3 separate regions of the Homo sapiens genome follow, and all the other regions are reported to be linked to region 2. Evidence: microRNA targets listed by miRTarBase, many of them from high-throughput screens and not tested one by one. Region 2 holds a microRNA gene; each other region holds the end of a gene's coding sequence.

Region 1 (11,580 bases), not on the chromosome of region 2:
CGTGAACCACCATGCCTGGCCTCTTCCCGTATATATAGAGTGAGTGGTTCAGACAAAAGAATCAAGGCATATGCACTCTACCGTGAGAAAGAAGAGCAAAAGATGACTTGTATAATTTTCCAAAGAGAAGAACTTTGACCTAATTCTACTGTTTCATATTTGGTGTCTAGCATGAGAGAGAAGGGTGCATTTCCTTTGCTTAATGCATTACTTTAGGCCATTTTGACCACTCTATTTCTCTCCCAGGGCTCTGGTTGGGATTTTATCAATTTTAGGCTGCTTGTGCTGTTCTGTCTGCCTTAGGCAAACTTTTTTTTTTTTTTTTTTTTGAGACGGAGTCTCGCTCTGTCGCCCAGGCTGGAGTGCAGTGGTGTGATCTCGGCTCACTGCAAGCTCCGCCTCCTGGGTTCACGCCATTCTCCTGCCTCAGCCTCCCGAGTAGCTGGGACTACAGGTGCCTGCCACCATGCCCGGCTAATTTTTTTGTATTTTTAGTACAGACGGGGTTTCACCATGTTAGCCAGGATGGTCTCAATCGCCTGACCTCGTGATCCACCCGCCTCGGCCTCCCAAAGTGCTGGGATTACAGGCATGAGCCACAGCGCCCGGCCTAGGCAAACATTTTAATATAGAAATGAGCAAAGGGGCCAAGGCCTAGGCAATATGAGGGGCAGGGAGATATGAAAAGGCAAGGAGAAGGCTGCCTAGCCCTCTTCCTTGCTGTCACAGCCACCGCCCCTGGGGTTTCCACAGCCTAGTTGTAAGCCTTCTGCGTAGCCACCAGTCATCCCACCCATCTGGCTCTCCTTCCTTTTGACGCCACTACAAATGACCAATAAGCATAATATTAATCCACAGCAGTAATCAAATATAGGTAAATTCAAAATAACTAGGGCCGGGCGTGGTGGCTCACGTCTGTAATCCCAGCACTTTGGGAGGCCAAGGTGGGCAGATCACCTGAGGTCAGGAGTTTGAGACGAGTCTGGACAATATAGTGAAACCACGTCTCTACTAAAAATACAAAAATTAGCCGGGTGTGGTGGCACATGCCTGTAATCTCAGCTACTTGGGAGGCTGAGGCAGGAGAATCGCTTGAACCTGGGAGGCCGAGCTTGCAGTGAGCCAAGATTGCACCACTGCACTCCAGCCTGGGCAACATAGCGAGACTCCATCTCAAATAATAATAATAATAATAATTAGAAAGATTATTTTATTTTACATTATGATATTAAAATAATACATAATAATATGGGTGAGGGTGTGGAGAAATGAACAGCTTTGTAAATTGCCTGAGGGAGTGGGAATTGTTATAACTTTTTCATTTAATTTATTTTTTTTGAGACAAGGTCTTGCTCTGTTGCCCAGCCTGGGGTGCAGTGGCACAATCACGCCTCACTGCAGCCTCAGCCTCTCAGGCTCAAGCAATCCTCTCACCTCAGCCTCCTGAGTAGCTGGGACTACAGACCTGTGCCACCGTGTCCAGCTAATTTTTTACTTTTTTTGTAGAGATAGGGTCTCGTTATGTTACCCAGGCTGTTCTCAAACTCCTAAGGCTCCAGCAATCCTCCTGTCTCTGCCTCCTGAGTGCTGGGATTACAGGTGTGAGCTACCACGCCCAGCCTGGAACAACTTTTTACATAGGAATTGGAAATAGCTATTAAAATTAAGACTGCAAAACTTTAAAAAAATTAATTTACTTATTTATTTTTAGAGATGGGGGTCTTGCTATGTTGCCCAAGCTTGTCTCAAACTCCTGGGCTCAAGCAATTCTCTCACCTTAGCCTCCCAAGTAGCTGGGACTACAGATAAGCACCACTGTGCCGGGTAAGACGGCAAAACTTGACAGAGTGGTTCCTTTCATAGAGATGTGCAATGCTATATACACATAAAAATGAACTGTTAATACGTGGATCTATTTCTTTTCTCTTGAATCTGCTCTGTGACTTGCCTTGTTAATGAGACATTGGCTAAAATGGAGCAACCTTGCTAGTAATCAAACCGTGCAAATTAAAACATCAGTGAGATACCCTTTTCACCTATCAGAATGTCAACTGATTAAAAGAATGTGAATGCCAATTGTTAGGAACTGCTGACGGTATGTTCATGTGTATATTAGTACAAGCTAGTGGAAGGCAGTTTGACAATACGTATCAAAATCCTTACATGAAAACCCTTTGAGCTAAGAATTCCACTTCTATGAATGTATCCCTGGAAAATATCAGAAAGGTGTACAATGATGTGCATGCAAAATATTAATCTCAGCATTGCTTATGATTGCGAAAAATTTGAAACCATCCAAAAATCCATCAACAGGAGATCAGTTAATTATTGGCCATCCATAAGGAATAACACACAGCCAATAAAGTATCAACATGGGAACATATGCAAGACATATCATTATGTTTAAAAGCAAAGGTGGGGACATATGTTGTTTTGTTTGTTTGGTTTTATTTGGTTTTTGTTTGTTTGTTTTTGAGACCGAGTCTAGCTCTGTCACCCAGGCTGGAGTGCAGTGGCACGATCTCGGTTCACTGCAACCTCCACCCCTGGGTTCAAGCGATTCTCCTGCATCAGCCTCCTGAGTAGATGGGACCACAGGCGAGTGCCACCACACCCAGCTAATTTTTGTATTTTTAGTAGAGACAGGGTTTCACCATGCTGGCCAGGCTGGCCTTGAACTCCTGACCTCAGGTGATCCGCCTGCCTCAACCTCCCAAAGTGCTAGGATTACAGGCGTGAGCGCCCGGACTGCATATGTTTATCTGATTCCATTTTTGTTTTACGATTTGTAAATATATCTATGTGCGTATACATGTTTGTGCTTATAAATATACGCAAACAATTGATAAAAACATATACAAATTAGTAGTCTTTCTCTCTAGGGGGTTATGAGCCTAGGAATTTTACTTTTCTCATAATAAATATGATGTTTAATGTTTTACAAGCCATCAGAAAAACAATATTGAAAACTTCAGAAATTTAGAAAAGTTGCTCAACTGCACTGACAATTAAATGAATGCAAATTAGAAGAATAATGAAATGTACTGCCTATCATATTGGTAATAAAAAAATTAAGATTGTTAACACTCAAGGTAACATAGAGCCCTGATCTCTAAACTTTTTTGATCAATCGCATGTATTAGTAAAACGTTTTGGCTTTGAACACTAAATGTATATGTATATGTAATTGTTTTCATAAACAAAGATGGGGTCATATTATTCCTACTGTTCTGCCACTTGTAAATTCATATGTACAGTGATGTTCACTGAAACAATTTTTGACATATGAAAAACTAGAAACATTCAGAATGTCCATCAATAGGGATCTGGTTAAATAAATTATTGACCACTATTAGTCAACATGTACATAGATCACTATTCAGTCATCAAAGAGAGTGAAGTAGATGTACATTCTTGAAAAGGTAAGAGCAATATATCAATACATAAAGTCGGGAAGTAGATACAGCAAACGTAATAGTAGTTCATGGCAAGGGTAGGAGGGGAAAGTGAAGCTATGCAGGGAATTTGCTTTCTATTGTTTTACATATTTCTGCTTTGAAAATTTCTAAAAACTTGATTGAATGACTTTTCCAATCAGAAGAATACGAAAGATCTAACACAAAAACAGAAGTATTGCTTGAATTATTCAAGCAGAATGCACACATTTTAATGTCCAGAAAAGTTGCGGGTTTTGTATATTTGTACTAGCTCAAGAGTTGAGGATTGAAAAACGTTCCTAAAGGGATGAGACAACAGGAAATGGGTTTGTGCTTCTGAGTTGCTCAAGATCATGCTTATGAAGGACATTTTATATCGTTTTGAGCAAGTTTTGTGTTCCTTTTGTTAAAACTTAAAAAACTGAAAAAAACTTAAAAATTAAACATAATTTTAAAGAAAAGACAGCCCGGGTTAGGAAGCTAGGTCTCCCACGTCAGCACGTGCCCTGCCCTTCCTGGGGTTCTGGGGCCTGGGCCAGGACAGTTAGGCTAAACTGACTCTAGGCCACGCGGACCCCGTGGGGCGGGGCGGAACCTGGCAGGGCGCCAGTGACCGCTGGGGCCAGAGCCCTGCCGGGAAAGGAGGGCTTCCGCCTTGCAGCGCAGCTCGGATCAGCAGCAGCCCAGGAGGCCTCCCGCCCGTACTTTCCCGCGTCCATCCCTCTGTCCCACGGTCGGTGAGTCAGCGGAGCCTGATGGAGGCCTTGGGCTCTGGGCACTATGTGGGAGGCAGCATCAGGTCCATGGCGGCGGCGGCCCTGTCTGGCCTGGCGGTGCGGCTGTCGCGCCCGCAGGGGACCCGCGGCTCTTACGGCGCCTTCTGCAAGACGCTCACGCGCACGCTGCTCACCTTCTTCGACCTGGCCTGGCGGCTGCGCAAGAACTTCTTTTACTTCTATATTCTGGCCTCGGTGATTCTCAACGTCCACCTGCAGGTATATATTTAGAGCCACTAACTTTGTGGCATTTGGGGGCTCCTCGTCAGGATGGCTGACTTCCACCCACCTGCTCACCCACCCTAGAGCAAAGCGACCAACTCCGCTCCTGCATGCAGACTTGCCACTCATTCTTTCCATTGCCTCATCTTTTAGTATAAATGGGTGGCAAAAAAAGAAAAAAACAGCATTTGTGGAAAGCCTGAAATATAACCCAAATCGTCTAAGATAGAATGAAAAATTGACTCTCAAGGAAATATTTGAAGGAACAGAATACAGCTTAAAAATTTGAAAATCCTTAAAAATATCTGAGAAGTTTTTGCATCCGTAAAACAGAAAACAGCACGAACTTTAGGAAATGACAATGGGCACAGAATGCAATAAAAAAAAAAAACGGGGAAAGGTAACTAAAAACTTAAGGAAAGATAAACTGAACAAGAATGGCTCAGACAGCAGGCAAATCTCCCCAATTAGAAACGAAGTGAATAGACCCAATTGAATGAGATGAATTCTAAGCAATAGATGGATTGAATAATAAGCTGGAGGACATTAATAACATGTTCTGGAAGGCATACATTTCTTCAACCCAAAGGAAAAAAAATGACAGAAAGAAACTACAGGGAAGAACATTAAAAACTGTGCAAGAAACTTATGTTTCACATATGAAGCAACCTCAGATGTGGCATGGTTTTGAACAGTTGCCGAAAGTGTGAGAAAGGGAATCTGTTTGAATATTGGCACATGGATCAAGACTCTGGAGTCGGTGATGAGAAAATCCAATCAGAGCATTCCACTTTGCTATTCATTGAACCAGGTAGCCAACAGAAGAGTTAAAAATTAGTGATATGACTATATTCAGGGGGAAGGAGAGCTGAGGGGGGCGGCAGGAAGTCAGCAGAAAATGCCTCATGTCATTAAGTCAAGAAATAGTAATAAAGGCATGTTATTGAAAAAGGGGGTGTAATCTCTAAACAAGCACGTGTAGAAGTTTGTGTTTCTGATTTGGGGAAGCAAGAGTTGAGAAGGAGGGACAGTTCTATTACTTTTCATTATATGTCCTTTTTCTACTGTTTGATTTTTAAAAACTATACACATGTATTGCTTTTGCTTCGATTAAAAATCAAGACATTAAAATGAATTTATTGCATTTAGAATGAAATTTGGGGGGGGGGTTGCTAAGAGTGTCAGGTGGACTCTGAGTTAAAATAAGTGCCTTCCTATCTTTCTTCAGTAGTATCTGTATATCCTACAAGGTTCCTGGGTGATCACACAAACTATGATTTCCTTGACTTTGTAAATGTCTTGTTTCCAAACAGACCACAGGCCATATGGAAATGCTTTAAAACTAAAAATGGGCCGGGCGGGGTGGCTCACACCTGTAATCCCCAGCACTTTGGGAGGCCAAGGCAGGTGGATCCCCTAAGGTCAAGAGTTAGAGACCAGCCTGGCCAACATGGGGAAACCCTGTCTCTACTAAAAACACAAAATATTAGCCGGGCATGGTTGCGGGCACCTGTAATCACAGCTACTCGGGAGGCTGAGGCAGGAGAATCGCGTGAACCCAGGAGGCAGAGGTTGCAGTGAGCCAAGATCATGCCATTGCATTCCAGCCTGGGCAACAGAGCGAGACTCTGTCTCAAATGAATAAATAAATAAATAAAAACATAAAAATAAAAACGGCCAATAGTCTTCATGTAGCCCAGAGCTTCTTCACACCATGAAACTTCTCATGAGCAAATCTGTGGAATGTCATAGTTAAGATAAAAATTAAACAATAAATATGTGATTAATTTTCAAAACTTAAAAATTGAAGGCTGGGCACGGTGGCTTACGCCTGAAATCCCAGCACTTTGGGAGGCTGAGGCGGGCGGATTGTTTGAGCTCAGCAGTTCAAGACCAGCCTGAGCAACATGGCAAAACCCTGTCACTAATAAAAATACAAAAATTAGCTGGGCATGGTGGTACGTGTCTGTAGTCCCAGCTACTCAAGAGGCTGACGTGGGAGGATGGTTTGAGCCAGGGAGGTGGAGGTGGTAGTGAGCCAAGATCGCACCACTGCACTCCAGTCTGGGTGACAGAGCCACACTCTGTTTCAAAAAAAAAAAAAAAAATCGGACAGGGGCCCAGTGATGTTTATATAATCTTAAATTTTGGTGTTGACCATAAGAGCAAAACATGAGTTCACCTGGGGTCTAATTAAGAAACTAATGTAAAATTAAAAAAAAAGAGAAAGAAATATATAATAGCAGAACAGTGGAAATAAACTCCTACATCCAACAGTAGGAGCTGGTTAAATCAAAATAGTACATCTATATAATAGAATACTATGTGGCCATTAAAATGATAAGGAATTATATTTTATTGATGTGGAATGAATTTAGTAAATGTGAAGCCACCTAATCAATGATTCAAGTGATTGAGTCAAAGAGTGATACATGTATATTATATATTCATATACTCAACTCAGTTATAGAGAAATAATAAATGGAAAGAGTGCACACTTACAATATGCCATACAATGTTCTAAGCACTTTATATACATCATTTTTTTTTTTTTGAGATGGAGTGTCATCCAGGCTGGAGTGCAATGGCGCGATCTTGGCTCACTGCAACCTCCGCCTCCCAGGTTCAAGCGATTCTCCTGCCTTAGCCTCCCAAGTAGCTGGGATTACAGGTGTGCACTACCATGCCCGGCTAATTTTTGTATTATTAGTAGAGACGGGGTTTCACCATGTTGGCCAGGCTAGTCTCGAACTCCTGACCTCAGATGATCTGCCCACCTCAGCCTCCCAAAGTGCTGGGATTACAGGCGTGAGCCACCACGCCCGGCCTATATACATAATTTAATCCTCACAACAACCCTGAGATAGGGACTATTACTAGCAATTTTCAAGAGAAGAGAGAAACACAGAGAAGTATAGTGGCAGAGTGATAAAATAAAATATTGCAAACAATATTATTCTTCCTACTAATATGAGACACTCATTGCATGACTAACTTTTAATCGTATTTTTATTATTTAAGAAATTGGGGCTGGGCACGGTGGCTCACACCTGTAATCCCAGCACTTTGGGAGGCCGAGGTGGGTGGATCATGAGATCAGGAGTTTGAGACCAGCCTGGCCAGCATGGTGAAACCCCATCTCCACTGAAAATACAAAAAAAAAAAAAAAAAAAATTAGCTGGGCATGGTAGTGCATGCCTGTAGTCCCAGCTACTTGGGAGGCTAAGGCAGGAGAATCGCTTGAACCCGGGAGGTGGAGGTTGCAGTGAGCCGAGATCGTGCTACTGCACTCCAGCCTGGGTGACGGAGTGAGACTCCGTCTCAAAACGAACCCCCAAAAAACCCAAAAAACAAAAAAACAAAAAACAACACACAAAAAAAAAAAAGAGAAAAAGAAATTGGAAGGCATCCTTTAAAATTTTCTTGTAAAATTCATGCTGCAAGTGGATGCCATGGATCCTGGAATTTGTGGAACCAAGGCTAGACACTCCATTCCTGCAGCCTCATTTCAGCACTCCCAAGCCGTTGCACCACTGCACTATGGAGAATTGATGGAACTCATAGTCACTTAAAAAAGAGGGTGGGAATTCTTTATGTTGTTTTTGTTTGTTTTTGTTTTTTGTTTTTCAGACAGGGCCTCACTCTGTTGCCCAGGCTGGAGTGCAGTGGTGCAGTTTCAGCTCACTGCAACCTCTGCCTCCCGGGCTCAGGTGATCCTCCCACTTCAGCCTCCTGAGTAGCTGGGACTACAGGCACATGCCACCACGCCCAGCTAATTTTTGTATTTTTTTGTAGAGGCGGGGTTTTGTCATGTTGCCCAGGCTGGTCTGAAACTCCTGGCCTCAAGCCATCCGCCCACCTTGGCCTCCCAAAGTGTTGGGATTACAGGCATGAGCTGCCACGCCCGGTCAAGGATTCTAACAAAAGAAATTATTTTTAATGAAACATCAAAAGTATTCTTTTTTTTTTTTTTTTTTGAGACGGAGTCTCGCCTGTCGCCCAGGCTGGAGTGCTGTGGCGTGATCTCGGCTCACTGCAAGCTCCGCCTCCCGGGTTCACGCCATTCTCCTGCCTCAGCCTCCCAAGTAGCTGGGACTACAGGCGCGCCCTACCACGCCCGGCTAATTTTTTTTTTTTTGTATTTTTAGTAGAGACTGGGTTTCACCGTGTTAGCCAGGATGGTCTCGATCTCCTGACCTCGTGATCCGCCCGCCTCGGTCTCCCAAAGTGCTGGGATTACAGGCGTGAGCCACCGCGCCCGGCCTAAAAGCATTCTTTATAAAAGGTACTCAAATCAAATTGGTTTTAATGTGGAAATTGTAAATAGTTAAATGTCACGTTTTTCTCAGAAAACACAGCTTTTTGCCCATTAACAGAACATGTTAAAATATACACATTTCTAAAGTTACTCACAGTTTAAAATTTTAACTTGCAAATAGTACAGGCTTTTTGGCTTTATTATTCACTTTTCAAATAATTTCCTCCACTTCACTGCAGGTGTAATTCCTCTCATACTACAGTACTGCTGCCCCACCTCCCCACAAAAAAAGGCAAGACAGCCAGTGAAACTACAGCATCCTCTGATTTATCGACCTGCTCTCTTTCGTGATTGCTGGGCTTTCATGAGCTGAATATCTCTGGCAACTTTTGGCATAGATTTAACCGTAGAGTTAACTGAAATTCTCTTGAGCACTACTAACACGCTTCTGAGCAACAGAAACTCTTTTAACTCAGACTTTCATAAAGGTACAATTCTCTGAAAGCACCAAATGGGAGGGATCTCCTCTCTTATATGCCAGATCAAAGGCGAATTCCTGTTCTACCCTGATTCTTTGTAATTTCCTGTTTCCTTTCCTCTGGGTCCTCTCCTGATATTCCCAGACTTCTGGCTTTACAGGCAGAGATGCAGGTTTCAGGCCCCAGACTTCCCTCAGACCGATCTACAGCCTGGGCTTTCTGTTGCCATCCTTGACCTCTTCCTTGGGTGCAGTTTTGTAACTGCATTCAGACTCAGACAGATACTGGTCACCTGAATGACTACTGGCATTGATCTCCTTCTCCAGAAACTCAGAGAGACTGTTTTTAGAACCCTCATCTCCCAATATAGGGGTGGGAGTGGTCAGAGAGTTATAAATATCCTGTCTTCCAAGGCATGGCTTACCACAAGTCTCCAGTTTGAATAGTTTTAGTACAAATCTAATAGCTTTGTTTCAAACCTTTCCTGAAACATGCTTGGGAACTTAGAGGTGCGGTTCATAAGCCAAGTTTTGTTGAGCCAAATAATCTAAATGATTCTGGGCAAGGTAATCAAATTCTTAACAGGCAGAGAGGCTCCAGGACAAATAAGGGTATCTATCCAATATTTGGGGCTTTACTGGGTACTAATGTCTGTCTGTCACCTGCATTTATCCTCCAAGTACTCCTTTGTTCTAGAGAAGTGAATCCCGGTGATTTTTAGCAGTTCCCCCAAAGAGAAGATGTTAGGTATTAAAAAAAAAAAAGTAACATAGACAATAATTACTTTTCATTCCTTGTATTCCCAGCATGTATAAACAACCTTCTCCCATTCATATGATGCCTCTTGGCATAATTTAATTATTCCACATGCAACCAAGAGAGAGGCAACACGTACAAACATTTCCAGCTACCACAGTCAGAGGTGAAGTCATGGGGCCTCTGTTTATAGTTCACGTTCTCCCAGTGATGTCTTTTCTTTCTCTACTTCTGCCATTATCCCAATTTGATATTCTGTAATCCCATGATCTAAGTGGTGAATTCACCATCACCACTGTACCCTATTTATAATACTAAAGAAAGAAGAGGTGAGAAAAGTTTCAAAAAAGGAAGACAATAAACAGGGAAATATAAGTAGAGGGTAGAGTCTTCATTGCTGTACATAGCCATGTGGTGGTCCTGTTACTCTATCAATTCCACATTCCCTTTGCTTTAGCCACTGGGGAGGCTCAGTCCTTCAATCCTAAGGAGTCTGAGCCCTTGGGAGTCCTTTGTAGGGTTGCAATATTATGTCATGCACCCCTCAGGATTGTAGTATAAAAAAATACCTTAGAGGACCCCCTGAGAATCATCCATATTACTCTCTGTCCTCCTTCTATAGCAGAAACCACAAAATCACCTTTTTTTTGCATGGCTCTGGGGATCTAAGAGTGGCTTCAAATTCAGTGAAACCATTGTTTTGTCTACTACTAAAAGTGTTTCTTCCTAGGAAATTTAAACCTCTAATCTAGTAGAGATCAGAGTTGTAGGTATGGGAAGCAAAACTGTTGCAATGGGTCAGGTGTAATTATGAGAGACACTACCTTTATTTCCACTCCTCTGCTCCCAGACTTGCTAATCTTGGCAGTGGGAGGAATAGCTCTATATATTGGTTGCTGGTTCATAGTATGTATTGCATCCTAGCAGCCTCCATGGTGAATCTCCTATCAGGGCTTGCCACAGGCTCCATATGGCATTCTTTTTTTTTATTTGTAGAATTTCTGTTTGCTAAACCCATATAGCATTATGATTTACTCCAAACATCTTGGGCACCATTGGATCTGCTAGATGATAAGGGCCAACGGGCAGACCTACCAGCACAGTAGCCTACACCAGCTGGAGAGCCTTGTTTTAGCTGTGGATTCACACTAACTACATGTGGCAGGAATGACATCTGCATTTTCCAAATCTTGAATAGTGGCAAAAATCCCTGAAATTCCCACAAGAATATGCTATTGCATTTATTTCCTCTGTTGAGGAGGAGGGGGAGCTCTCGTAGCTTCCATTTTCCCCCTGCTTACCCTTATAACCCCTTTCTCCAGGGCCCAGGTAGCCCATGTGGCCATATACTGGAGACTAGCATCTGTTTCTGCCTGGAGATTTCTGAAGTCAGGAGGCTTGCCTGTACCAGCAGGGTGAATAGGGAACATGATATGGTGGAACTAGAAAGAAAAGGATGGGGGAAACCTCCCATTCCATGCCTTCGCTCTGCATTCCTCAAAGGGTGCAGAAGATAACTATCGTGCTTTCCATGATACCATGTGTTGCAGCACAGAAGTTAGAGGAAGCAACAGAACCTCAGGGCAGCCCCAATAGCCACTAGCCAGATGAGGAACACTCCATCTGGAAGCAATGTGTGGATGCTGACTGAT
Region 2 (5,000 bases):
ATATGTGGGGGTTTATGAATGATATAATCTTCAACTATGATGATTCTTGAATTTTTTTTCCACACCAAGGTACGAAATGATGAAGGAAAAGTAATTCGGTTCCATTGTAAATTATGCGAGTGCAGCTTTAATGATCCCAATGCTAAGGAGATGCACTTAAAAGGGCGAAGACACAGACTTCAATATAAAGTGAGTAAAATTTCAGCTATTACCTTCTTTAAAACAAAAAACAAAAACAAAAACACCCAGAGCATTCTTTATGTAAAAGAAAGCATCTAAACACAGCTTGCCAAGTCCATGATGTCCCATTCTAAGATTAGCATGTCATGTTGGTAGACTCAGATGGATGTTTGGTTTTTATTTATCCATTTTTAAAATAAAGAAGAATAACATTCTCATCAGTTTTAGTAATTGTGGCAAAAACTGAAGCATTGCCTGGACCAAGCAATCATGTAAAGATAATTAATTCACATAAAATGTTTGAAAAAAGTCTCAACTATTTATCCACCTTCTTTATCTGGTAGAATTCCCACCAAAATGAACTTTGAGATGAGTTGATATGTTGGAAAATCCCTTCACTTATCTTAGCGTAGGAATTCTTCACTGAATACACTTCAAATGTTAAGATAAATCAGATATTGTATTTGAAGTTTTTTTTTTTAATGAGATGGAGTCTCGCTCTGTAGCCAAGGCTGGAGTGCAGTGGCATGATCTCGGCTCACTGCAGCCTCTGCTTCCTGGGTCCCTGTTCAGGCATTTCTCCTGTCTCCGCCTCCCGAGTAGCTGGGATTACAGGCATGCACCCCCATGCCCAGCTAATTTTTGTATTTTTAGTAGAGATGGGGTTTCACCATGTTGGCCAGGTTGGCCTGAACTCCTGACCTCATGATCCGCCCTCCTTGGCCTCCCAAAGTGCTGGGATTACATGCGTGAGCCACCGTGCCTGGCCTGTATTTGAAGTTTTTAACTAGGCTAGATTGATGTACTAGATCCATGTTTTCTGTTTTAAACACGGAGGAGGTGAAAATTAAAACAGTGTAAAAGGGTAGTACTTAAATATGTAAAGAAACTTTTTAACCCCAACATAGACATTTAGAGTCATCTGTTTATAAACAGTTACAGTTGACCCTTGAACAACATGGAGGTCAGGGGCCCCTCACGCAGTCAAAAATTTGCCTGCCTTTTTTTTTTTTTTGAGATAGGGCCTTGCTCTGTTGCCCAGGCTGGAGTACGATGACATGAACATGGCTCACTGCAACCTCCCGGGCTCCAGTGATCCTCCCACCGCAGCCTCCCAAGTAACTGGGACTACAGGCATGTGCCACCATGCCTGGCTAGCTTTTGTATTTTTCTAGAGAACGTTTCACCATGTTGGCCGGGCTAGTCTGAAACTCCTGGCCTCAAGTGATCTGCCTTCCTTGGCCTCCCAAAGTGCTGGGACTCCAGGCTGCTTATAACTTTTGACTCCCTAAAAACTTCTAAAAGCCTACTAATGACCAGAAGCCTTACTGATAACATAAACAGTTATTTTTATGTTAACACATTTTTGGTATGTCATGTATCTCATATATACTGTATTCTTAGAATAAAGTAAGCTAGAGAAGAGAAAATATTATTGAGAAAATATGAAAATCAAAATATTTACTATTCATTAAGTGGAAGTGGGTCATCATATAAAGGTCTTCATCCTCATCATCTTCAAGTTGAGTAGGCTGAGGAAGAAGAGGAGGGGTTGGTCTTACTCTCTCAGGGGTGGCAGAGGGAGAAGAAACTCAGCAGCATAGATGTAAGTGTATTCATATACTTCAAACCCCTGTTGTTCAAGGGTCAAATGTAAAGTAAAATTAAATATCCATTAGTTTTTCTAAGGATTTCATGACTTTTTGTTGGTCAGCACTAAGTTACATACTTTTTACATAATTTTTATTAATGTATTTTGAATCTTTTCTCTGATTTACCTTAATTATATTGATTTTACTCTCTAGTGGGAAACTTGCAACTAAAAGCCTCCGTGATTAAAGAATAAGTGTAATTGTATGATTAAAAATACATGTAGATTGTTTTGGGGCTGCTGTTTTTTAAATGTCTTATTTATATTAATAGAAAAAAGTAAATCCAGATTTGCAAGTAGAAGTAAAGCCTAGTATTCGAGCAAGAAAGATTCAAGAAGAGAAAATGAGGAAGCAAATGCAGAAGGAGGAGTACTGGCGAAGACGAGAAGAAGAGGAGCGTTGGAGAATGGAAATGAGGTAATATCTTTAACTTTTAATAGCCTGGTAAGTGGTTCAGCCTTTCTTAAAAACTTAGCCATTCTGAGCATGTGACTCCCATTCAAAGCAATCCAGATTTATTTACTTCCAATTTTCACTCTTGAGGAAGATCCTAGGTCTAGGAAAGACATGCATTAAAATTGTTACTGGCTATACTAATATTTTACTGTGGCCTTGGTATTAGAGTTATATGTTTAAGTGGCATCTTTTATAAATTAAACATATGAAGAAATAGTTTCATATTATAAATAAGTGCCTCGGTTTCAAACAAGCAAAATAGACATACATTTCCTGATAGAAGTATAAGATTTGATAGATTCTACATGTTAATAATGTCCATAAAGAAACTTTAGTGGCTACAGGGAAGGAGAATTGAGAAAACATATTTCAAATATTTGTTTATATATATATAAAGATACAAATGTTAAGTTTTATTGAAATATAACATATCTTCTAAACTTATACAGTGACAGAGTTGTGTAACAATCACCACAATCAATTTAGAACAGTTCATCACCCTCAAAAGAAATCACGTACCCATTAACAATAATTCCCCATGTGTCCCACATACCTAGTATCTCCCCCAGCCCCAGCCCTGGACAACCTCTAACCTTTCTGTCTCTATAGATTTGCCTATTCTAGAGATTTCATATAAATGGAGTCATATTAGGTTAATGCAAAAGTAATCGCGGTTTGTGCCAGATGACGATTTGAATTAATAAATTCATTTGGTATAAACCGCGATTATTTTTGCATCAACTTACTACAGTCTATGGTCTTTTGTGTCTGGCATCGTTCACTTAGCGTGTTTTCATGGTTCATCCAGATTGTAACATGTTTCAGTATTCCATTGTCTTTTATGACTAAATAATACTGAATAATACATCCTTATGTACCACATTTTGTTTATTCGTTCATTAGTTGATGGACATGCAACTTGTTTCCACATTTTGACTATTATGAGTATTGCTGCTGTGAATATTTTTGTATAACTTTTAAAATACAGTTTTAGCAGAAACATACCATACACGTATTTTCATAATCCACTTTTTTCATTTACATACCTTCAACTTTAAAAACTAAATTCGGATTATTTTGTTTTTCATGAGGACATAGTAATTTTTGTGCATATGTAAAATTTTCTTCATAACCAATCCTTGTTGTTATTGTTTAGATATTTAGGTAGTTTCCAGTGTTTCCTTATTATAGTTATTAATATCTTGACCCTCCTTGAGGCACTTTTTTGTTTCTTTCACCAAGTATGTGAACCTATTGAGGCGATATTACTGCATACATTATCGTTAGTTGCTAATAATAGAATATGGGAAATGGAAATGTTTGAAGGATGCTCACATGTCTGCCTATACTGGATAGCATAACTCAGTGGTTCTCAAACTTTTTGGTCTCAGGATCCTTTATCCTCAATTATCAAGGACTCCAAAGAGTCCTTATGTGGGTTATACCTGTCAAGACTTACTGTATTAAAAATTAAAACTGGCCGGGCACAGTTGCTCATACCTGTAATCCCAACACTTTGGGAGGCTGAGGTGGGTGGATCACCTGAGGTCGGGATTCAAGACCAGCCTGACCAACATGGAGAAATTCCCATCTCTACTAAAAATACAAAATTAGCCGGCGTGGTGGCGCATGCCTGTAATTCCGGCTACTCAGGAGGCTGAGGCAGGAGAATTGCTTGAACCCGGGAAGAGGAGGTTGCGGTGAGGCGAGATCGCGCCATTATACTCCAGCCTGGGCAACAAGAACAAAACTCCGTCTCAAAAAAAAAAAAAAATTTAAAACTAAGAAATTTAAATATTTGTTAATTCATTTTAAAATGACATTTTAATTATTTTTTGAAATATGGTTACATGTATATTTGTTAAAATATTACACGATATATTTAATCAATAAAATACAGTAAAAAAATTATTCCACAGAATAGTGGGAAAAGTTATGCTATTTTACATTTTTGTACATCTCTTTAATGTCTGGTTTTAACAGAAGGCAGCAAGATTCTCATGTTTGCTTTTGTGTTCATATGTGGTGAATAACACATGTTGCCTCTGGATAATTTCACTGTACATTTAGAATGAAAGAGCAAGTAAGTGTCTTTAGTATTTATTATGAAAATAATTTTTTTTTTTAAACAGAGTCTCACTGTGTTGCCGAGGCTGGAGTGCAATGGCACGATCTTGGCTCACTGCACTCTCCACCTCCTGAGTTTAAGTGATTCTCTTGCCTCAGCCTCCCAAGTAGTTGGGATTACAGGCACCTGCCATCACGCCTGGCTAATTTTTGCATTTTTAGTAGGGATGGGCTTTCACCAGGTTGACCAGGCTGGTCTCAAACTCCTGGCCTCAAGTGATCTGCCCGCCTCGGTCTCCCAAAGTGCTGGAATTACATGTATGAGCCACCACGACTGGCCTTATTGTGAAAATAATTTTGACCCCATGGATCTCCTGAAAGGGTCTCCGGGACCACTTGGTGTCCCTGAATTGCACCTGGAGAACCCCTGCTACAGCTTAATAAAATCTCTACCAATTAAATGTGATAGCCATTTTGTTTCAGTTTGAATTGTTTTCATGTTTGGCTATTTATACTTCTTTTGTGGTAAATTGCTTGTTTTTTCTTATGTGTTGATTTGTACAGACGTTTCTTACGTTGTTATTATTAATAATCCTTTTTATGGGTTACCTTTAAATAGTTTTTACTATTATGTATGTGTTGGTT
Region 3 (11,580 bases), not on the chromosome of region 2:
ATGTCCCTCAAGTGCCTTCGCTTTTCAGCACCATGCCCAGTCCATACCACAATGTGCATTTGGGTGACTGTGGGGTCACCCTCACCCCACCACACACACATGACCCTGAGCACCATTAGGACAGTAATCTGGGCTGTTTTGCTCCCTGTGGTATCCCTAGTAGCCATACACAGGAGGAGCTGAATCAAAGCATGCTGGATGAGCCATAGCTGAGGAAAGAAGGCCGGGCACCTGCCCTGATTATGGGCAGGGGGCCACATACCCTGGTTTGCTTGGGGAGGCCATGTTCACTTGTCTTTCCCACATAATAATAATGGTGCCCTGTTCACTCTCAAATGTCCCAATTTGGTGACATATGATCAATGTAGTTATTGGAAAGGAGAAGGGGTTAGCCCCGAGCTTCTGCTCTTTCCCAGCCCCACACTGGTTTCCCACTTGCCCCCAACAAGCACAACATTCAAAGCTTTTTCTTCTAACTCTTGAGATTTTTTTGTTGCTGTTAATATTTCCCTACATTGCCCTCAATCTCCAGAAAAAACATAAAATTCTCTCTGCCCATTTCACTGCAGAAGTGGCCTCCTGGAGGGTTACCATGGTGATCAGATGATGTCACTGTCCTGGAAACAGTTGCCTAGGAAATGTGTGATGTCACTTCCAGGAGATGATTCCCATGGTAACCATCTCAGTGGAATTGGGGGGTGGCCAGGAAATGGGGGCTGAGGGCGGATACAGAAGGGACAAATGTGAAGAGCGGAAGGAAAGGGGGAGGGGGAGAAATGCAGGAAAAAACCAGGAAGAGGAAGGGGACCTTCCCAGAGCAGTTGAAAATAATATACAGAATCTCAGAAATGGAAAGGTCCCCAGAGACCACTAAATGCAACAACCTCATTTTTACAGAGGCTGCTGAGAGGCCAGGACTTGCTCAAGGTCACACCGCCAGTTGACAGGTTAGAGCCAAGCCCAAGGCTGCATGACTGTCAGGTTTGGGTGGGGTAATAAAGGATTCCTTTCAGCCATTTCTCTTTGTTTTGTTTTGTTTTTTTCCCCGAGACAGAGTCTTGCTCTGTCGCCCAGGCTGGAGTGGCGCAATCTCGGCTCACTGCAACCTCCACCTCTCGAGTTCAAGCGATTCTCCTGCCTCAGCCTCCCGAATAGCTGGGATTACACATGTGCACCACCACACCCAGCTGATTTTTGTATTTTTAGTAGAGATGGGGTTTTACCATGTTGGCAAGGCTGGTCTTGAACTCCTGACCTTGTGATCCGCCCGCCTCAGCCTCCCAAAGTGGTGGGATTACAGGCGTGAGCCACCACGCCCAGCCTCAGTCATTTCTTTTTAAAAATTCTGACCTGTAATCAATGAGTTATTCATGAATTCATTACTGTGAGTTTGTGTGCTGGACCTGGAGAGGACCGTGAGTGACATTTTCCTAGTTACTTTATATCTTTTTAATGTATCTTCCCCACTTTTTTGTATCTCCCCACTCTAACACTGGAGTTAGCCCCCTGGTCCATGTCCATGTCTGTATAATTCACTAAGGTCTCTCCAGCCACCTGCCCAGTGTCTACCCCATAATGGCAGCTCTTCAATGTGTTTGTCAAATGAATGAAGACAGATAAATGCCATTGTGTGGTACAGACCCACAGTACTGGATCCCAAAGAAGGGATCGCAGTAGCTGACAGGGAGGAGGTAAGATTTCATAGATAGAATTCGAATAGGGCAAGAGAAGAAAGCCAGACAGGAGAGTAACGGCTTGAGCAAAAGTAAGAGCAGGCTGAACAAACTGGGTGCAGCTGGAGAGATTCCAGTTGGTGCTTTGATCCACCTCTTGAGTTATACTGTAACGGCAGTGCCTACTGTAACTGTAGTACCTCACTTTTTGAAGTGAAGGAGCTCCAAGCTTTAGGAGTAAGAAGCACATTAAGGTCCAGATTGCCTGGAGATGTGGGTGGGGCAGTAAAAAAGACCAATCTGGCTTAAAAGGCGAATGTAAAGAAGGTGATTGAGCAAAGGCTACCTGGCAAGGAAGAAAGAGGTCTTATCAAGGAAGACCTGGAGTGGCAGGCTTTCAGCCCCTGTCTTGAAGACAACATCGCATCATGAAAAGGATCTTGAAGCCCTGCACAAAGACATGCTCTGCCACTCCTCAGCTATGTGACCATAGAAAGTCACTTTTCCTCTCTGAGCTGCTAAATTGGAGCTATGACCTAATTCACAAGATTATTAGCTTGAACTTTAAAATGTAGGCTGGGCGTTGGCCGGGTGCAGTGGCTTACGCCTGTAATTCCAGTACTTTGGGAGGCCGAGGTGGGCGGATCACCTGAGGTCAGGAGTTCGAGACCAGCCTGACCAACATGGAGAAACCTGTCTCTACTAAAAATACAAAATTAGCTGGGCGTGGTGGCGCATGCCTGTAATCCCAGCTACTTGGGAGGCTGAGGCAGGAGAGTCGCTCGAACCCAGGAGGCAGAGTTTGCACTGAGCCAAGATTGTGCCACTGCCCTCCAGCCTGGGCAACAGAGAGAGACTCCGTCTCAAAAAAAAAAAAAAAATGTAGGCTGGGCGCAATGGCTTATGCCTGTAATCCCAGCACTTTGGGAGGCTGAGGCAGGAGGATCACTTGAGGTGAGGAGTTGGAGAGCAGCCTGGCCAACATGGTGAAACCCTGTCTCTACTAAAAATACAAAAATTAGCCAGGTGTGGTGCCATGCACCTGTAGTCTCAGCTACTCAGGAGGCTGAGGCAGGAGAATCGCTTGAACCTGGGAGGTGGACATTGCAGTGAGCTGAGAGTGTGCCACTGCACTCTAGCCTGGGCAACAGAGTGAAACTCTTGTCTCAAAAATAATAATAAAAAAATAAAAATGTACATAAAGCTTCACTTAGCAGGGTGACTGACTAGCTCACAAAAGACAGCAAATGTTATTTCCCCTCCCCTTCCTAGTACAGAATGGCATGGGAGTAGAACTTTGGGAAATGAATTTGACAATAGATTCCTTCAGGTTTGTTTGTTTGCTTGAGACAGGCTGTCACCCAGGCTGGAGTGCAGTGGTGTAATCAGGGCTCACTGCAGCCTCAACCTCCCAGGACCAAGCAATCCTCCCACCTCAGCCTCTCAAATAGGTGGGACTACAGGCATGCAACAACACAGCTGGCTAAATTTTTGTACTTTTAGTACAGATGGGGTTTTACTGTGTTGCTCGGGCTGGTCTCAAACTCCCGGACTCAAGCAATCCTCCTCCCACCTCGGCCTCCTAAAGTACTGGGATTACAGGTGTAAACCACCTTGCCAGGCTTGTTATAACATTTCTAGGACTCCTTTTCTCTAGTTGGGGATCAAAATATCCATGGCGTAGTGGAAAGAACCTTAAAGTAAGACAGCCCATTTCAATCTCAACCTTGCCTCTTACTAGCTATGCACGTTACATCACCGAATACCTGGTTTCCTCATGTGTTAAAAATATTAACATTCCTCACTGCTAAGGCTGCTGTAAAGATTCAGAGACCATGCATTCAAAGTACCCAAGACACAGTAAGTATTTGAGATGGTAATTTTTATTAGCCAGTCTAATGATTGGGTTTTATAATGAAAGAAGACCTGTTAAGTCACACCCAGCTCTGAATCATAGTGTTTGTGCTTGCCTGATAGTCACATCTGCTAAGATGAGGACCCTCTCAGTCTCTGGATGGCAGATTCTAAGGGTGTATGGGAGGAAGGTATGGAGGGCCTGATGGCCCACGCACAGCCTATTTAATCTTACAGAGCCAAGAGGAATCCTAGCTCCCTGATCCCGAAGGATTTAAGGACGGCCAAGAATTTACCCAACAATAGCTTCATTATCAAGAATCCTACCCCTTCCCCCAACTCAAAGAAATGGACTTTTGAGCAGGGTTTGAGGAGCTACTGGAAATCTGAAGCAATAGCAACAATAATTTTTTCTGGGGGGGGGGGGGGGGCGGGGACGGAGTTTTTGCTCTTGTTGCCCAGGTTGGAGTGCAATAGCGCGATCTCGGCTCACCGCAACCTCTGCCTCGCAGGTTCAAGCGATTCTCCTGCCTCAGCCTGCTGAGTAGCTGGAATTACAGGCATGCGCCTCCATGCCCGGCTAATTTTGCATTTTTACTAGAGATGGGGTTTCTCCATGTTGGTCAGGCTGGTCTCGAACTCCTGACCTCAGGTGATCCGCCCACCTCGGCCTCCCAAACTGCTAGGATTACAGGCGTGAGCCACCGCGCCCAGCCAACATCAATAAATTTAAACATCCCTTTTCAAGTATAATTTCTTCCATTCTAAGTGAAAACATTAAAAACACTGAAAGTCTCCTAAGGGTGAAATGTGTTGTATCCATTTTCTTTCTAGTCTCAACCCAAAGAGCATGGCAGTTAAGAGAACCAGGGACAAGGATTCGGGATCTGAATGCTACTCCAGATGCACCAATTTTGCCATGACCTAGAAAGCTATTTCATTTCTCTGGACTTTAATTTCTCATGCTGTAACATTGAGATGACCCCTTCTTAACGATTTGAGAAAGTTATCTTGACAAGTTTTAAAACGTTTTAAGTAGAATTGGGGAAAAAATATGCAGCAGTGAAGACTTCCAGGCTTACATCACATGTAATTTACAGCACCCTCTTAGGTCCTTTCAAAGAGCCTCATCTATTATTTATGTGGCTAACCTCCTTTTCTTTCTTTTTTTTGAAACCGAGTCTCACTCTGTTGCCCAGGCTGGAGTGCAGTGGGACAATCTCGGCTCCCTGCAACCTCCGCCTCCTGGGTTCAAGTGATTCTCCTGCCTCAGCCTCCATCGTAGCTGGGATTACAGGCACCAGCCACCACACCCAGCTAATTTTTGTATTTTTAGTAGAGGCGGGGTTTCACCATATTGGTCAGACTGGTCTCGAACTCCTAACCTCAAGTGATCCACCCACCTCAGCCTCCCAAAGTACTGGGATTACAGGCATGAGCCACTGCACGCGACCTATGTGGCTAACATTAATCACGTATGTCCATACTTCCCCATACCTCATTCCCAAAGAAGGTGCCTTACACACCATGAACTTAGATTAAAACATAACCCAAATCCTACACTTAAAAAATGAGGGACCTGAACCTCAAAGGTGGCATGGCTTGCCAAGGTTCCCCAGGCCCCCCAGAGGGCCGTTAAAATTCTGAATAAATCTTGGGTGGAAGCTGTCCTCTAGCTTACCAGCTGTATAAATTCCAGAGATCCACAACCTTTGCACTTTAGCTTCCTCATCTGTAAAGTGGGACAAAACCTTTCAGAAGACAGCTGTAAAACGTAAATGTGAATGCTTTAGCAACTGCAAAGGACATTTCAAATGTAAAAGCGACCGGGCACAGTGGCTCATGCCTGTAATCCCAGCACTTTGAGAGGCTGAGGTGGGAGGATCACTTGAGGTCAGGAGTTCAAGACCAGCCTGGCCAACATGGTGAAACCCCATCTCCACAAAAATACCAAAATTAGCCGGGCACGACAGTGGGTGCCTGTAATCCCAGCTACTCAGGAGGCTGAGGCAGGAGAATCACTTGAACCTGGGAGGCAAAGGTTGCAGTGAGCTGAGATCGTGCCATTGCACTCCAGCCTGGGTGACAAGAGTGAGACTCCCATCTCAAACAAAAAAAGAAAATGTAAGAGCCCTTTGTGTGTGTGTGTGAGAGAGAGAGAGACAGAGAGAGAAAAGAGAGAGAGAGAGAGGTCTTGCTATCAGAGACAGAGAGAGAGAGAAAAAAAGGTCTTCCTATCTCCCAGGCTGGGGTACAGTGGAGCAATCACGGCTCACCGCAGCCTCGACCTCCCGGGCTCCATCCTCCCAAGCAGCTGGGACTACAGGCGCACGCCACCATGGCCCAGCAACATTTTGTCTACGTGCTTATCAAAAGCAAGTATTAGCCATATAAAGCTTGTTGACTTTCAAATACCTGACCTACTAACTGAAGTGAAACTCAATAACCACTTTATCTTAAAATTAGGTCAACTTGAAACAGGCTTCCTGAGCCGTATTCATCGGCCCCGGCATGGGGGGCGGGGCTCATACTCTACTTCAGAATAAGAAACAGGTTAAACTTACATGCTTACAAGTTATGTGCTCCACAATATAAATTCAAGGACAGAGATTGTGTCATGGCCATTTCCATCAGTCTAATGCCAAACTTTAGTCAAGAAGGTGTTTAAGGCTGGGCACGGTGGCTCACGCTTGTAATCCCAGCTCTTTGGGAGGCCAAGGTGGGTGGATCACATGAAGTCAGGAGTTTGAGAGCAGCCTGGCCAACACTCAAAACCTCATCTCTACTAAAAATACAAAAATTAGCCTGGTGTGGTGGTGGCGTCTGTAATCCCACCTACTCAGGAGGCTGAGGCATGAGAATGGCTGGAACCTGGGAGGTGGAAGCTGCAGTGAGCCGAGATCATGCCACTGCACTCCAGCCTGGATGACACAGCGAGACTCCATCTCAAAAAAACAAACAAATAGAAAAAGGCGTTTAAGGGTTCTGTGTAACTGAACCAACTCACCTAACAAACGTTCATTCCTAGGTGCCACTCTGGAGGTGATAAAAATCGTGAGGAGCTGGAAACCACCTCACTCAAGAACAGTCAGCCAGTGATGCTGAGGCTCGAGAGACACATTGGGGTTAAGCAAGTGTTTAAGGGGTAGGTTAGGCTTTTTAACTCAATGAGGTTTGCTTTTCTATTTTAAAGAATACTAAATGCTTAACAATAATCACTAAAGATTTCAGGGGTGCAAGTTGTGCCCCTAGTATCTTATTACATTAAGAAAACTTGAGGACGTGTATAAGCTCCGTATTTACCTTCAGTGTTAAATACACTCTCAAGTTCAACAGAGCCCACAATGTTTCAGAGGTGCTATACTGTGGAAGACTGCATTTTGTTCTGCGAGGCTCATTAAAAAGCACCAGTTATCAGGAAAATTGATCAGAGAGGCTATGTTAGCTGGGTTCACAGAAAACTATTTAAAATCTATGAATCCTATGTGTGTGCTGCAAAATATGTAATGTAATGAGAGGGGAGGAAAACTTGGATAATGTACTACAAATGCTTCCATGTTTGAGAGATTCAAACCACAATTTGTGACTGGTTAAACAGTTCCTCGAGGGGGGAAAAATCAAGACCAAACAGAGATAATATCCCCAAAGCAGCATTTATTTACCCATTGAATTCCAAAACATTTATTTTAGAAGTCTGGCATTTCATAATCACCCATCTTGATTGACATGGGCTGACACACATGGCGCTGTCAGGATACACAAGGACAATAGCCAAAGAGTTACAAAAAATAAATCCATGATTCTTAAACAATTGCAACCAAAAAAAAAAAAAAGTTACAAGTATCAAAACTTTCAGATGCATTGCATTGAAAAGAAGGTTTGTGCACGTCATAATTTAAAGAGGCAAAACCAAGGAGCTACTGAAACCTCACGTTAAACAGTTTATTATAAAGCTGATGGAAAGGAGCAAGTTGTCTCTCTGTATCAGCTTCCCTTAACAGTTTTCCATTAATTGAAGAAAGAGGTGGGAGGGGTGAATTCATTTTTGCATGCACAAGATGTACTGCTTAACGAAACACTATCAGCTTGTTTTAAATGGATCTTTTAAATATCAACTGTAGCCTGGTTGGCTAATTCTTTCTAATCTTCCCCATTACTTTCGCCTAGATTTCCCATAGATCAACAGGCATAGTAAAATGCCTCATCAGAACACACTTCTCCACACAATTCAAAAAGGGAGCTCCTGTGGGCTCAAAGCAACCATCAGTCCAGCAATGCCCATGATTTATCTGAAACTGCTTCCCAAGAGACAGGAGTGCAGATCTGAGTAGCTGTGCTGCCAATACAGATAGGTTTAGCACTAGATATTTAGTGATTGTGGCAAGGAAGAATCGGTGATGATGGGGGTGGTGGGTGAAGGAAGGGCCAGGGGACCTGAAGGATCTTCAGTTGCCTTCTCCTGCTTCTTCATCCTGCTGGTCGCTCGTCCAGAGGGTGAGGTTGTCTCGCAGCAACTGCATGATCAGCGTGGAGTCCTTATAGGAATCCTCGTTTAGTGTGTCCAGCTCAGCTATGGCATCATCGAAGGCTTGTTTGGCTAAGAGGCAGGCTTGCTCAGGTGCATTCTGGATCTCATAGTAGAACACGGAGAAGTTGAGGGCCAGGCCCAGCCGGATGGGATGCGTGGGTTGCATCTGCTCTTTGCTGATTTCAAAGGCTTCCTTGTAGGCAGCTTCAGAAGCTTCGACCACACTGTTTTTCTTCTCCCCAGAAGCGACCTCTGCTAAGTAGCGGTAGTAATCACCCTTCATTTTCAGGTAAAACACCTTGCTCTCATACTGGAAATCATTGCAGTTCTTGATCAGGAACTTGTCAAGCAGAGACAGGACATCATTGCAAACTGTCTCCAGCTCCTTCTCAATCTTCTCCCGGTAAGCTTTAACTTTCTCCAATTTCTTTTCGTTTCCATCAGCCATGGTTTTCTGCTCAATGCTGCTAATGACCCTCCAGGAAGATCGCCTGGCACCAACCACATTCTTGTAGGCCACAGAGAGGAGATTTCGATCTTCATTGGAGAGAGGTTCATTCAGCTCTGTCACCTGCAAAACCCCAAAAAGATAAACATTGAAAGCAAAATCTGAAAATCTTGGTAAGAAGCCTTCCCTTCAACATAATCAACAATCCTTCTCAAGAACGGAATTACGAACAGGTCAGTCACTCTGGAGAATAAAAACCACCCATGGATAAAACCAATATAGACATGAACCCTATGTGAAGAAAGACTATAGTCTAACAGAAGAGATAAATACTTGGCACCCAAAACAGAAAATCATAGGGGCTTGAGAAATTCATAATTCGGGTCTGATAAGATGTTGCTTTCACCTTGGTAGAGGAATGGGACTAAGGATAATTATGAAAAGGTTGTACAGCAGCAGTACATAATGGTGAAGAAGAAAACCTCGAGCTTCAGCCATTCTGCAAAAGATACTCTGAACAGGCCGGGCGCGATGGCTTATGCCTGTAATCCCAGCACTTCAGGAGGCCAAGGGCGGGCAGATCATGAGGTCAAGAGATCGAGACCATTCTGGCCAACATGGTGAAACCCCATCTCTACTAAAAATACAAAAATTAGCTGGGCGTGGTGGCACGCGCTTGTAGTCCCAGCTACTTGGGAGGCTGAGGCAAGAGAAACTCTTGAACCCGGAGGTTGCAGTGAGCCCAGATCGTGCCACTGCACTCCAGCCTAGCTAGCGACAGAGCAAGCCTCCGTCTCAAAAGAAAAAAAAAAAAAAAAAAAAGATACTCTGAACAGTAAGATCGTACGGTCCCTTTGTCAAATGTTCAAAGACAACAGACTGGAAGTGTTCCAGACTCTGCTTCCAGCTTTATACTCTGGAAAGAACCAACCACTCCTCAAATACACATTAACAGATGGTGGGGCTTCACAGATCAGATGGAACATCACACAGATCCAGTGGCCAGAGCTTCGCCCTGTGTGGCTACACATGGAACCCTAACTGATACTCCCAGCCCTCTCCCAAACCAAAATGAAGAACAATTCATAAGTGACATGAAAGTACCCCCAGCTCCTAGTGAAAGGAAGCACAGCTACTCAGCAGGAAGTTGTACTCTGACCTACCTCACAGGAAACTCTGGTCATCAAGGATGGAAGCATCAATTATTTTAAGTGGAAGAGTTAAATTTCACAAGCTTTAACTTCCCTTAGTTCTCCATGATGCCAACTACAAGTGAACTAGCTATGCAGTTAGTAGGAAGAGCATTATTAGACTTTGCAGTGGTTGAACTGTATCCCCCGCCAAAAGATACGCTGAAGTTCTGACCCTAGGTTCCTGTGAATGTGAGCTTATTTGGAAATAGGGTCTTTGCAGATGTAATTAGTTAAGATGAAGTCATACTGGACATTAGGGTGTGCCCTAAGTGCAATTACAGGTGTCCTTATAAGGATAGTGAGATTTTGACACACACACAGGAAGAATGCCATGTGACAGTGGAGGCAAAGACTGGAGTGACGCATCTACAAGCCAAGGAACACCAAGGGTTGCCAGAAGCCACCAGAAGCTGGGAGAGTGCCTAGGAAGGATTCTTCCCTAGAGCCTTCAGAGGGAGCGTGGCCTGCCTACACCTCACTTTCAAACTTCTAGCGTCCAGAACTATGAGAGAATACATTTATTATTTTAAACTATCCAGTTTGTCGTACTAGGTTCAGCACCCCCTAGGAAACTAACAGAGTTTCCTAACAAGAGTTCCTAACAGAGTTGCTAACAGAGTTGGTCTGGGCCCAAGCAAAGAAAATGACTTCCTAAATTGACCCAGGACATTTCACAAGCCCTTAAAAGATGGTGTGTCGTCTAAAGTAGAGGGATTCCTTAATATGACCTACTGGTAAAGGTCTTTAATTTTATTAAATCAGTCTCTGCTTATCCAAAAGGTCTTTAATTTCAATAATGAAAAAAAAGAAAGCAAAGCACTTAGGAAACCATAAAACACTAAACAAAAAAGGTATTACTTAAACCAATCTGTAAGGACAGAACCTCCAGAGGGAAAAGGCCAAGTTCATTGGGGAAAGTTATCAATAGCATATTCAAATAGACACACTTAAAATGGATTGAGAAGACTGAGCAGTGGAGTATCAGAAATCATGAACAATGATGGTTTATTTGGGGAATTAGTGGTTCAAGGACATAAGCAGCAAGTGTAATCATTATTACAGGTAAAAATCAGAAAACGTGCCAAGTTCTCACAAAGTAAAACAAGCAATTGTCTGAGTCCTCCCTACCCCCAAGCCCCAGACAAAATAAAAATACCAGCTCACTCTTAATTTCTCCATTTCCCTGTCCCCAGGACCCCTACTCTTCTGCTACAAACCCTTAACACAGGCAAAGTCTCTCCTTTGCCTACCCACTTCTTTCTTCAGTGTGGTCTTTGGCTAACAGCTATCCTGACCATTCCCCAGGGGTGCTGCCTCCACTCTGGTCAAGCCAGGGTTCTCATTATTCATCCTCACATATTCATTAGTAGTCTCCATACCTCTCACTGTGATCTGCCCCAGTCTACCATGAATCTACAATCCATGCTCCCCTTAAATCCAGCTGAACACCTATAACCCCACTAGTTTCCTCCTCCAGTAAGTGCCTTTAAACACTTACATACATTTTCTTACGGAAAATAGAGACTTTGTAAATATTTAATAACTTAGTCTTTTTTTGCCCACATCAGAGGGTCACATGTCTATGTTGTAACAAGGTTTGAGGGTGGCACATCTCACACCTGCATGTCAAAACCCAATCATCACACTTATGAACTACAAAAAGATGAGTAACTACTTAGTCTTTTAACGAACAACACTTCTGAATCAAAATTCCATCCCAAATATTCTGATAAATTTCAGAATGCTTGAATCCTCTAGAATGACTTGCGTTTCTAGAGCAATATTCAATAAAACAAAGCATAAGGCAACAACAGAATTTGGAGAGCTCCTTTCATCTTGTAGTAATTAAACTAAGGCCATTTGGCATTAAAATACAAATAATAT

Evidence for each region. Region 2 holds the annotated microRNA hsa-miR-579-3p (UUCAUUUGGUAUAAACCGCGAUU, at 2,994-3,016, shown strand). A microRNA usually pairs through its seed, bases 2 to 8, with sites in the 3' UTR of a target mRNA and lowers its output. Matches are read on the target gene's strand: a 7mer-m8 pairs with bases 2 to 8, a 7mer-A1 pairs with bases 2 to 7 and ends in A, and an 8mer does both.
Region 1: the mRNA of SMIM10 is a reported target of hsa-miR-579-3p. Seed matches in the 3' UTR shown: 7mer-A1 at 5,564-5,570.
Region 3: miRTarBase lists YWHAH as a target of hsa-miR-579-3p. Seed matches in the 3' UTR shown: 7mer-A1 at 7,566-7,572.

What each region holds. Positions count from the first base shown.
Region 1 is chrX:134,986,904-134,998,483 of GRCh38, forward strand. It overlaps SMIM10 (small integral membrane protein 10), which reads left to right and starts at 4,088. Exons shown (of 1, transcript NM_001163438.2): 1 at 4,088-5,570. The coding sequence starts at 4,193. The coding sequence ends at 4,444.
Region 2 is chr5:32,392,408-32,397,407 of GRCh38, reverse strand. MIR579 (microRNA 579) reads left to right here and starts at 2,933; the gene lies at 2,933-3,030. ZFR (zinc finger RNA binding protein) reads left to right here. Exons shown (of 20, transcript NM_016107.5): 10 at 70-189; 11 at 2,104-2,249.
Region 3 is chr22:31,953,185-31,964,764 of GRCh38, reverse strand. YWHAH (tyrosine 3-monooxygenase/tryptophan 5-monooxygenase activation protein eta) reads right to left here. Exons shown (of 2, transcript NM_003405.4): 2 at 7,162-8,626. The coding sequence ends at 7,973. LOC124905158 (small nucleolar RNA U13) reads right to left here and starts at 11,361; the gene lies at 11,259-11,361.